Homo sapiens: one gene and its partners. The protein of the gene in region 1 interacts with the protein of each later gene in a biochemical or structural test. Each region holds a gene or a part of one and is shown on either strand. Other genes may lie near its edges.

What was found.
Region 2: the proteins of KLF1 (region 1) and SMARCC1 form a complex in vitro, tested with the Homo sapiens proteins (one study listed by BioGRID).
Region 3: the proteins of KLF1 (region 1) and FLI1 form a complex in vitro, tested with the Homo sapiens proteins (one study listed by BioGRID).

The regions. Positions count from the first base shown.
Region 1 is NC_000019.10:12,884,984-12,888,732, reverse strand, and holds the start of KLF1 (Krueppel-like factor 1), read left to right. Parts: upstream 1-1,531; 5' UTR 1,532-1,592; coding exon 1,593-1,679; intron 1,680-2,590; coding exon 2,591-3,416; intron 3,417-3,672; coding exon 3,673-3,749. UniProt on the Homo sapiens protein: Transcription regulator of erythrocyte development that probably serves as a general switch factor during erythropoiesis. Is a dual regulator of fetal-to-adult globin switching.
Region 2 is NC_000003.12:47,775,303-47,778,951, reverse strand, and holds part of SMARCC1 (SWI/SNF complex subunit SMARCC1), read left to right. Parts: intron 1-3,649. UniProt on the Homo sapiens protein: Involved in transcriptional activation and repression of select genes by chromatin remodeling (alteration of DNA-nucleosome topology).
Region 3 is NC_000011.10:128,770,453-128,774,101, reverse strand, and holds part of FLI1 (Friend leukemia integration 1 transcription factor), read right to left. Parts: intron 1,321-3,649; coding exon 1,117-1,320; intron 1-1,116. UniProt on the Homo sapiens protein: Sequence-specific transcriptional activator. Recognizes the DNA sequence 5'-C[CA]GGAAGT-3'.

The DNA of each region.
Region 1 (3,749 bases):
AGGTGATCTGCCTGCCTCGGCCTCCCAAAGTGCTGGGATTACTAGCGTGAGCTACTGCGCCTGGCCCCATGCCTCCAAGTTTCAACCAGTTCTCCAGCTCAGCCTCCCAAATAGCTGGGATTACAAGCATGTGCCACAATGCCCAGCTAATTTTTGTATTTTTAGCAGAGAGAGGGCTTCATCCTGTTGGCCAGTCTGGTCTCGAACTCCTGACCTCAAGTGATCTCCCCACCTTGGCTTCCCAAAGTGCTGGGGTTACAGGTGTGAACCACCGCACCTGGCCTTGTTTTTGTTTGTGTCACCCAGGTTGATCTGCCAGGAATAAAGATGGCCACCCAACTTTTTTTTTTTTCCAGCGACAGAGTCTTGCTTTCTGTGCCCCAGGCTGGACTGCAGTGGTGTGATTATAGTTCAGTGCAGTCCCGACCTCCTGGGCTCAGGCAATCCTCCCACCTCAGCCTCCTGAGTAGCTGGGACTATGGGCATGCACCACCACTCACAGCTTTTTGTTGGAGAGATAGGTTTTATGTTGCCCAGGCTGGTCTTGAAATCCTGGTGTCAAGTGATCCTCCTGCCTCAGTCTTCCAATGAGTGACTATGAGTTATGTGTCTGTAATACGTATCCATGTCCCCTTCCCAGGCTCCCAGGGCACCAGAGTGGAGGTTCCTGTTGTAGAAACTCAGATCCTCTCCTCATGTTGGGCAGAATCAAGGAGCAGCCAGGCCCAGAGCCAGGGCACTGGTCTCCTGCAGGTCAGGTACTGCCTGTGGCTTGATCCAACGGTCCTATCCCACCCAGGAGGAGAGAGGGTCACTTTTCCCTTGGCTGCCCCCATCGCACTAAAGCAGCTGGCACTGAACCAGCCTCCATGCAGTCCCATGCAGTGCCACCCAAGGGTCCCCAGTAGACAATGGTGGGCCAGTTGTCAGGGGCTTCCTCCTGCTGCAGGGCTGAGACCCTGGGAGGTCCCAACCCAGGCAAATTGAACGCCAGGCTAATTTGAAGACCCAACTCCCAGCCCTCCCCTTCACCGGAGGACAGAGCTCTAGCTGGCCTGGGCCCCCACCTGATAGCAGCCTCCAACGTCTGGGGTGTCTGATAATGCTTGGCGGGGAGCTCGTGCCAAGTCCCGCCATCAGCACGGTTGTTGCTGTTTACTGGGGAGGGGGAGGGCTGTGGAGCCTCAATCAGGGGGACAGGGGGTCCCACAGCTTCTTCCCAGAATACCCTTTCTGCCTTTTCCAGGAAAGTTAACTGAGGGAAGACCCCCAAGTCTCTCCTTCTTTGGAGACCCAATGTCTGTTTTTACCCAGCACCTGGACCCTCAAACCCTGAACCCCCCAACCCTTGATATTTGACTTGGCTTTGGACACAGGGTTAGTCTTTAACCCCAGCCCCAGACAGGCCAACGTGAAGTTTGTGCCCCAGAAACAGTGCCCCCCCGCCGCCTTGCCTTGCTTTGCCTTATCAGAGGCTGCAGCCAATCAGCTAAGGACAGAGAGGAGCCCTCGAAGGGGCTATCACAGCCTCAGAGTTCACGAGGCAGCCGAGGAAGAGGAGGCTTGAGGCCCAGGGTGGGCACCAGCCAGCCATGGCCACAGCCGAGACCGCCTTGCCCTCCATCAGCACACTGACCGCCCTGGGCCCCTTCCCGGACACACAGGATGACTTCCTCAAGGTGGGGCCTAGAAGGTGGGGTCTAGGTGGGCTGGCTGGAATCCAGGGCCACAGTCACAGATCTTGGGGTCCAGACCTGCATCTTGACCTGAAATCAAGAGACTTAACCAGGACTGAGGTACGCTCAGTCCAGGAGAGGAGATCTCAGCTTAGTCTGGCAGGGGGTGAGGAGGGTGGTCTAGGGGTTTGAGGTTCTAAGTGTGATCTATTTCGGTAATAGAAAACGAAGGTAGCCTGGGCAACATGGTGAAACCCTATCTCTACAAAAAATACCAAAAACATTAGGCCAGGCATGGGGGCGTGTGCCTGTAGTCCCAGGTACTCCGTAGGCTGATGCAGGAGGATCATTAGAGCCCAGGAGATTAAGGATACAGTGAGCTGCACCACTGCACTCCAGCCTGGGCAAAAGAGTAAGACCCTATCTCAAGAAAAAAAAAAAAAAAAAGGAACGAGATCTAGGCTCACAGACAATCTTCCAGATATCAGCGGGAAATGATGAGTGTGTCTGGGGGACATCCAAAATTTCGGAATTAATCTTGTTTTGGGAGACAGGGAAGGAGAGGGATGTTCTGGGGGAAAACTAAGTCAAGGCTGGCATCCTCTCCCCCGTCCCCTGCCAGTTTTCCATCTCCAGCAGCTCTGCTACCCCTTCCCCCATCCCCGAGTGTGGTTCCAGATAGTGGAAGTCTTATCTCCTGTCTCCAGCCAGACCTGATCGGTTTCTGTCCCTGGAGCTGGGGGGGGAGCGGGGAGAGGGGCGGTTAGAGGGGCAGTGTTGGGGAAGTGGGACAGACAGACAGGCAAACAAGACCCCTTTCCAAAGCCTCTGCGTCAGAGTGTCCAGCCCGCGATGTCCCTGGGCAGGGCACCCCAGTGTCCACCGAACCTCGAGCTGCCTGCTCCCTCCCGCAGTGGTGGCGCTCCGAAGAGGCGCAGGACATGGGCCCGGGTCCTCCTGACCCCACGGAGCCGCCCCTCCACGTGAAGTCTGAGGACCAGCCCGGGGAGGAAGAGGACGATGAGAGGGGCGCGGACGCCACCTGGGACCTGGATCTCCTCCTCACCAACTTCTCGGGCCCGGAGCCCGGTGGCGCGCCCCAGACCTGCGCTCTGGCGCCCAGCGAGGCCTCCGGGGCGCAATATCCGCCGCCGCCCGAGACTCTGGGCGCATATGCTGGCGGCCCGGGGCTGGTGGCTGGGCTTTTGGGTTCGGAGGATCACTCGGGTTGGGTGCGCCCTGCCCTGCGAGCCCGGGCTCCCGACGCCTTCGTGGGCCCAGCCCTGGCTCCAGCCCCGGCCCCCGAGCCCAAGGCGCTGGCGCTGCAACCGGTGTACCCGGGGCCCGGCGCCGGCTCCTCGGGTGGCTACTTCCCGCGGACCGGGCTTTCAGTGCCTGCGGCGTCGGGCGCCCCCTACGGGCTACTGTCCGGGTACCCCGCGATGTACCCGGCGCCTCAGTACCAAGGGCACTTCCAGCTCTTCCGCGGGCTCCAGGGACCCGCGCCCGGTCCCGCCACGTCCCCCTCCTTCCTGAGTTGTTTGGGACCCGGGACGGTGGGCACTGGACTCGGGGGGACTGCAGAGGATCCAGGTGTGATAGCCGAGACCGCGCCATCCAAGCGAGGCCGACGTTCGTGGGCGCGCAAGAGGCAGGCAGCGCACACGTGCGCGCACCCGGGTTGCGGCAAGAGCTACACCAAGAGCTCCCACCTGAAGGCGCATCTGCGCACGCACACAGGTGAGGGGGCGGGGCCCCGGACATGAGAAAGGGCGCGGCGCCCGCTGTAGTTACAGGGGAAGAAGGGTTGCAGAGGGCGGGACTTGGACTTGGCTGGCCTCTGAGAGTGAGTGCCTCCTTAAATTTTGTGCCCTAGGGGCCTCACTTTGTTCATCCTAGTCCCAGCCCAGGCTGAGTAAAGGGGTGTGGCCAGATGCAGGGGACCCGGGGACATGACTGGGCAGACAGTGGCGCTTATGGCTTCCTTGTCCCCTAGGGGAGAAGCCATACGCCTGCACGTGGGAAGGCTGCGGCTGGAGATTCGCGCGCTCGGACGAGCTGACCCGCCACTAC
Region 2 (3,649 bases), on another chromosome or scaffold:
CAGTGGTGAGATCATAGCACACTGCAGCCTCAACCTCCTGGGCTCAGGTGATTCTCCCACCTCAGCCTCCTGAGTACCTGGGACTACAGGCACGAACCACCACACCTGGTTAATTTTTTGTATTATCAGTAGAGGCAGGGTTTTGCAGTGTTGCCCAGGCTGGTCTCGAACTCCTGGGCTCTCTGCCTGCCTCAGCCTCCCAAAGTGCAGGGCTTACAAGTGTGAGCCACCACACTTGGCCCACACTGACTCTTACTTGAAATATTTTGAGACTAATAAATTTTTGTTTTCTTAAATAAAATATAATAGACTTTTTTTGATCAAAAGATTAATTGGGCCAGGTGCAGTGGCTTGCGTCCGTAATCCCAGCACTTGGGAATTCCAGGTGGGAGGTTCATTTGAGCCCAGGATTTGGAGACCAGCTTGGGCAACATGATGAGACCCTGTCTCAAAACAAAACAAAACAAAAAAATACATCAGTTGTGGTGGCATGCACGTGTAGTCCCAGCTACTTGGCTGAGGCAGGGTCCTTGGAGGATCACTTGAGCCTAGGAGGTCGAGGCTGCGGTGAACTGTGTTGGCACCATTGCACTCCAGCCTGGGCAACAGAGCGAGACCTTGTCTCAAAACAAAACGAAACAAAACAAAACAAAAAACAAAAACAAAAAAAAACCAGATTAATTGTTTATGACATAGAAATTAAAATTTCTTAATTAGGAGTCAGTGTTTTTTTTGTTTTTTGTTTTTTGTTTTTTTTTTTTGAGATGGAGTCTCGCTCTTCTGCCCAAGCTGGAGTGCAGTGGTGTGACCTCGGCCTCCCAAGTTGAAGTGATTCTTCTACCCCAGCCTCTTGAGTAGCTGGGATTACAGGCACCCGCCACCACGCTCTGCTAATTTTTGTTATTTTTAGTAGAGCTGGGGTTTCACCATGTTGGCCAGGCTGGGCTTGAACTCCTGACCTCAGGTGATCCGCCAGCCTCAGCCTCCCAAAGTACTGGGATTACAGGCATGAGCCACTGTGCCTGGCCTACATGCATTTTCATGTTTGGTAATTTGGTAGGATGATTTGGAAAAAAAATCTAATCAGAATTAAATATTTTATAGTTTATTAAAAATTGGACTGAGACTGGGGGCTGTGGCTCACACCTGTAATCCCAGCACCTTGGGAGACCGAGGCCGGTGGATCACCTGAGGTCAGGAGTTCGAGACCAGCCTGGCCAATGTGGTGAAACTTCTGCTCTACTAAAAATGCAAAAATTAGCCGGGTGTGGTGGCACATGACTGTAGTCCCAGCTACTCAGGAGACTGAGGCAGGAGAATCACTCAAACCTGGGAGGTGGAGGTTGTAGTGAGCTGAGATCGGGCCATTGCACTCCAGCCTAGGCTACAGAGCGAAAGTGTCTCAAAAAATAAATACATAAATAGAGACAGGGTCTTACTGTGTTGCCCAGACTGGTCTCAAATTTCTGGACTCAAAGTAGTCCTCTAACCTCGTCCTCCCAAAGTACTGGGATTACAGTCATGAGCCACTGCACCCGGCCTATATTCACTGTAGTTATTAAAAATATAGGCCGGGCATGGTGTCTCACGCCTGTAATCCCAGCACTTTGGGAGGCCAAGGCGGGCAGATCACCTGAGGTCGGGAGTTTGAGACCAGCCTGGCCAACATGGTGCAACCCCGTCTCTACCAAAAATACAAAAATTAGCCAGGCGTGGTGGCGTGCGCCTGTAATCCCAGCTACCCAGGAGGCTGAGGCAGGAGAATCGCTGGAACCCGGTGGGCAGAGGCTGCAAGTGAGCCGAGATTACGCCACTGCACTCCAGCCTAGGTGACAGAGCAAGACTCTCTCAAAAAAAAAAAAATAAATATTTACCTGAGGCCAGGTGTAGTGGCTCACGCCTATAATCCCAGCACTTTGGGAGACCGAGGCAGGCGGATCATCTGAGGTTGGGAGTTCGAGACCAGCCTGGCCAACATGGAGAAACCCCATCTCTACTAAAAATACAAAATTAGCCAGATGTGGTGACGCATGCCTGTAATCCCAGGTACTCGGTAGGCTAAGGGAGGAGAATTGCTTGAACCCGGGAGGCGGAGGTTGTGCTGAGCTGAGATCGCGCCATTTTACTTCAGCCTGGGCAACAAGATCAAAACTCGGTTTAAAAAAAAGAAAAAATATATATATATTTACATCTATATATTTACATATATGTTTACATATATATGTATATTTACCTGAAATGTTGATTTGGTTCCATCTGAACAGCCTTTTTCAAGGACATTGTCTTTTTCAGCTATAGAGTTTGGCATTGTTTAGTTAATCTGTAAAATACAGATTGTAGTTATTATTTTTGAGACAGTCTCACTGGGTCACCCAGGCTGGAGTGCGTGGCACGCTCTTGGCTTGCTGCAACCTCTGTCTCCTGGGTTCAAGCAATTTTCCTGCCTCAGCCTCCTGAGTAGCTGGAATTACAGGTGTGTGCCACTCTGCCTGGGTAGTTTTTGTATTTTTTTAGTAGAGATGGAGTTTGGCCATGTTGGCCAGGCTCGTCTCAAACTCCTGACCTCAAGTGGTCCACCCGCCGCGGCCTCCCAAAGTTCTGAGATTATGGGTGTGATCCTCCGTGCACAGCCGGTCATTATTTTTTTATGTTGCTTTACCGTGTACAAAAAAAGTGCAGTACATTATATGACTCCTTTAGGAAACCTGTGCTTATTAAAGATTATGAAGTTACCTTGCGGATAAGTACAATGTATTTTGTCAGTTTTGTAAGATACACTTGAAGTATTTTTTTTTTTCTCGTTTGAGACGGAGTCTCGCTTTGTCACCCAGGCTTGAGTGCAGTGGCGCACTTTCGGCTCACTGCAACCTCCGCCTCCCGGATTCAAGCCATTCTCCTGCCTCAGCCTCCCAAGCAGCTGGGATTATAGGCATGCACCACCATGCCTGGCTCATTTTTGTATTTTTAGTAGAGACGGGGTTTCACTATGTTGGCCAGGCTGGTCTTGAACTCCTGACCTCAAGTGATCTGTCCACCTTGCCCTCCTAAAGTGCTGGGATTACAGGCATGAGTCACTGCATCCGGCCAGAGTTTTAATTTTTAATTTTTGTGGGTACATAGCAGGTCTATTTCAAAGTTTATTTTATTTTATATTTTTTGAGAGTGAGTCTCGCTCTGTCACCCAGGCTGGAGTGCACCCAGGCTGGAGTGCGGTGGCACGATCGCGATCTGGGTTCGCTACAGCCTGCGCCTCCTGGGTTCAAGCGATTCTCCTCCCTCAGCCGCCTGAGTAGCTGGGACTACAGGCAAGTGCCACCATGCACGGCTAGTTTTTGTATTTTTAGTAGAGACGGGGTTTCACTGCTTTAGTCAGGTTGGTCTTGATCTCCTGACCTCGTGATTCGCCCGCCTCGGCCTCCCAAAGTGCTGGGATTCCAGGTGTGAGCCACCACCGCGCCTGGCCCTTGAATACCGTTTATTAAAAATTTACGGGGCTGGGCGCGGTGGCTCACACCTGTAATCCCAGCACTTTGGGAGGCCGAGGCAGGCGAATCACGAGGTCAGGAGATCGAGACCATCCTGACTAACATGGTGAAACCCCGTCTCTACTAAAAATACAAAAAATTAGCCAGGCGTGGTGGTGGGCGCC
Region 3 (3,649 bases), on another chromosome or scaffold:
CAGAACGATGGCGAGCAAACAGAGCTCACCAACCCAGAGCCAGCCAGTCCAGGAAAAGCAGGTCCCAGAGTTGCTGTCTAAGGATCTGAACTTGCGAAGGGGGCTTAAAATCATCAAGCCCCTGCCCAAAGCTAAACTCCTGCAAGACTCGCAGCTGCCTTGGCCATTCACAACAAATAGCATCTCAAGGCTGCCCTGTCTTTGCACAGGGCTGCTAGAATGCTCTTACGTAGTGTGAGCCCAAACCTGTGTTCCTGTGATCCTAGCACCATCTTTTCAGGCCCCAGGACAATCCTTCCATACTTAGGGGTAGCACTGATATTGATATACCACCTGGCCTGGATTCCCAGCAGGGCACTCAGGCTGAGGTTACCAGCAGGACTAAAATAATTCCATTCTTCTGCTCTGTGTATATTTCATATCAAATGAAATTCATATCAGACTGATGGGCGCTTGGTGCTAGAGTACCTCATACTAGATAAATCTCTTGGACAACTGCCTGCTTTCTTTCTTAAGCTCGCCCTTTCCAAAGCTCTTTTCCTTTTCTTGGCTGTACCAGAAGAAAGCCTCCAATGGATCCTAACACACCTGCACCTTTGGCTGCTCTTCCTTATCAAGGAAGTGTGCAGATAGCAGCCCTGTCAAATGGGGTTAGGGTGTGCCAGAGTATCCCAAGATTAAGAGGAAGCTAATATGTAAATTATTTTCAACACCTTAAATCCAAAAGCCTTGAATCTAGAGTTTCCTGGAGGAATTTTAAATAATCACTTAGGAAAACACCAGCCAGGGCACCACCCATCTCTATCTATTTTCAAATTGGAATAGTTTCTGGAAAGGCGGTCTCATGGGAAGAGTGTAACCAGCCTCTGCCAGACCCCTCCAGGTCACAGCTCTCTACTTTTCTCCATTTCTCGTCTTACTTCCTTTGACACTTCAGGATTGGGTCTGCCCCTCACAGGGTCTGTAGGAGCCCACGTGACCTTGGCAACACTACAGGCCCCACGATGCTGCTCCGGCGGCATCTGCCCAACACGAACGGGCAGCACTGACTTCCTCTCCCTGGGTTGGCTCCATGCCAAGCTTCCTCCCAGCCCTGGGTACTTGGGCGGCACTTACTTTCCCTGAGGTAACTGAGGTGTGACAACAGCACTTCCGTGTTGTAGAGGGTGGTGGCGCGGAGGAAGTCCTCCTTGTTCATTTTACACAGTTCCTTGCCATCCATGTTCTGGAAAAAGGATGTGTCGATCTCCATCAAGCTGTACTCCTTTATGGCCCACTCCAGCCATTGCCTCACATGCTCCTGTGTCCACAGTGTGGGGTCTGCAGAGGAGAAGACGTTGTTAGCAAGGACTGCAGGAAGGTAGAGGCTCCCTGAGAGCCTAGGCAGCCTCCCTCACCCCTTGTCCCTCTTTCTTTCCCTTCTCTTTCTCTCTGGGAGAGCTCCCTTCCACATGGTTCCCCTAGAACACTCATCAGGCTCCATGGCATCTGGCGCTGCCTGAACCACTTAGCACTCCAGGGAGGTGCTTAGCTGCCTCACTACGTATCCTGACAGAGCACTCTTTAAAGTTTTGGAGAGCAGTTGGAACCTTTGCCTGAGAAATGGTGGCATCAAAATGAAAATAAACACAATTTCACAGACCCCGGGACCAATGTCTCTGGAAACGGGAACCATCTGTATTTTAAGAATATTAATGATTTCATGAAAGAACACGGATCCCTCAGATGGCTGTAGAAAAGAAACAGAGAGACTTTTACTGCAATTCCATCTGTGCAGTTGAAAAACCCAGCGGTGTTAGTCTTGAACAGAAACCCAAACTAGATTTTTCTCCTTTTGAGCACAGCTGTGTAGAAATTTCTACCAGGGCATCCCCAAAACATATTTTAGATATTTAAATACCCAAAGATGAGAGATGACGTTGGGGAGAACATTTTAGCTCTTGAGTGAACACAGGTAAGGTAACCACTGAGGCCATCTCTATGGTAGGACACTCATACCTCCTCCTCCTTCTCAGTGTGTGTATGTGTGTGTGTGTGTGTGTGTGTGTGTGTGTGTGTGTGTGTGTGTGTGTGGTGGGGATGTTGCACTTTCAGCACAAGTGATGAGTTCCAGCAGGTTCCACAGTAGGCAGAACTCTTTTATCACTCATCACAGTCTGAAGCCCATCTCTTCACTTGGCAACCAATGGTTAGTGGGTCCAATAAACACCTTAAATATCCTTATCATAGAAGAAAATTACATGACGCTTGCCTTCAAGAAATACTCATTCCCATGAAACAGGTAGGCAAGCACACCACTACTAAGCAATGGACTGTGTGGCGGTGGTTCGAGGACTCATAAGTGGAAGGGAATAGTGAAAATTTGGAGAGTCAAGGAAGACTTCCTGGGGGAGGAGAGACTCGGCATTTTATTGTAAGTCGGCCATTAGCCTCCGGCTTCTAATGAGCCTGTTTGATTTAACATATTTATTAGGCAGGAATATCTGTGCTACCCCTCAAGCAACTCACCCTCTCATTCTACAGCGTCTGTGAAGGCTCCTGGCAAAGCAGGGAACCAGGATTGAATGACTAGGAGTGGATGTGGGGCAAGAAGCAAGGCTCACGCTTCACAGCTGGGCAGCCAGAGGCAAGTTTCCCAGCACTTTTACACAAGCATCCACCAACTGTCCTTGGACTCTCCATTCCACCTTGGTTTTTATGTGTGAGAATCTGGGTGGCAGGGCCCGAGTAGTCTGCTTTGTAAAGTGCCCAGGCCCTGCCCATGCACGAGAGTGGCTGCTGTGTTGTGCTGAAGGTGGAGGAGCTGGCAAAGGGGAGGAGTTAGGAGAGTTTGGGTTCACAGGTCACAGCCTGCTGCTGAATGTCATTCCAACAACCTAATGCCCTGTGAGCAGTGACGGCTCAGATGGTGGGTGCTATGTGCCACCTGCTCCGCGAGCCCTATTTTTACTTACCAAGGAAATCTTTTAATATCCCCATTTTACAGATGCAAAATGGAGTCTTAAAAGGTTAAGTCCTTTGCCCAAAGCCCCATCGCTGGTAAGTATCTGGGCTGGGGTTCCAATAGAAACCATTATAGGACTTCACTAAGCTGAAGAGGTGGGTTCCCCCAAAGCCCCTTTCCTCTTCTCACCATCCTGCTTTACCTCACCTGTGAGTTACACTGCTCTGAAGCCAGAAAGCGGAGCTCCTCTAAAGTGTCATTGTACAAGTATGTCTTCCTCTCTCTCTCTCAGATACATTTCTTGCTCTTTTACTCTCCAGAAGCAATTAGGCATGGATCATTGGCAAATGGAAATAATTTTGCACCTTTTCAGAATTCTAGAGAAACATATCCTCGGGAGAGTTGGATTATGTAGCATATTATTTCATTCTTCACTTCTCCCAGTTCCTCACTTTTAGTATCCAAGGCCTCAAATTCAATTTTACACCATATATTTTATTTATTTTATTATTTCCTCCCTTGCTTTGGGCTCTGCAACAATATTATTACTCTCCCTCTACAGCACAATGAATTATAAATCTTCAACTCTGGATCATGCTAAACTCTTCCAAATGCATTTCCTGGATGATTTAGTCCTAGTTTCTTCCCATCTGAACATGGAGCTAGTGATTAACTAGGGCCCACATTTATACTTGTCTTTAAATC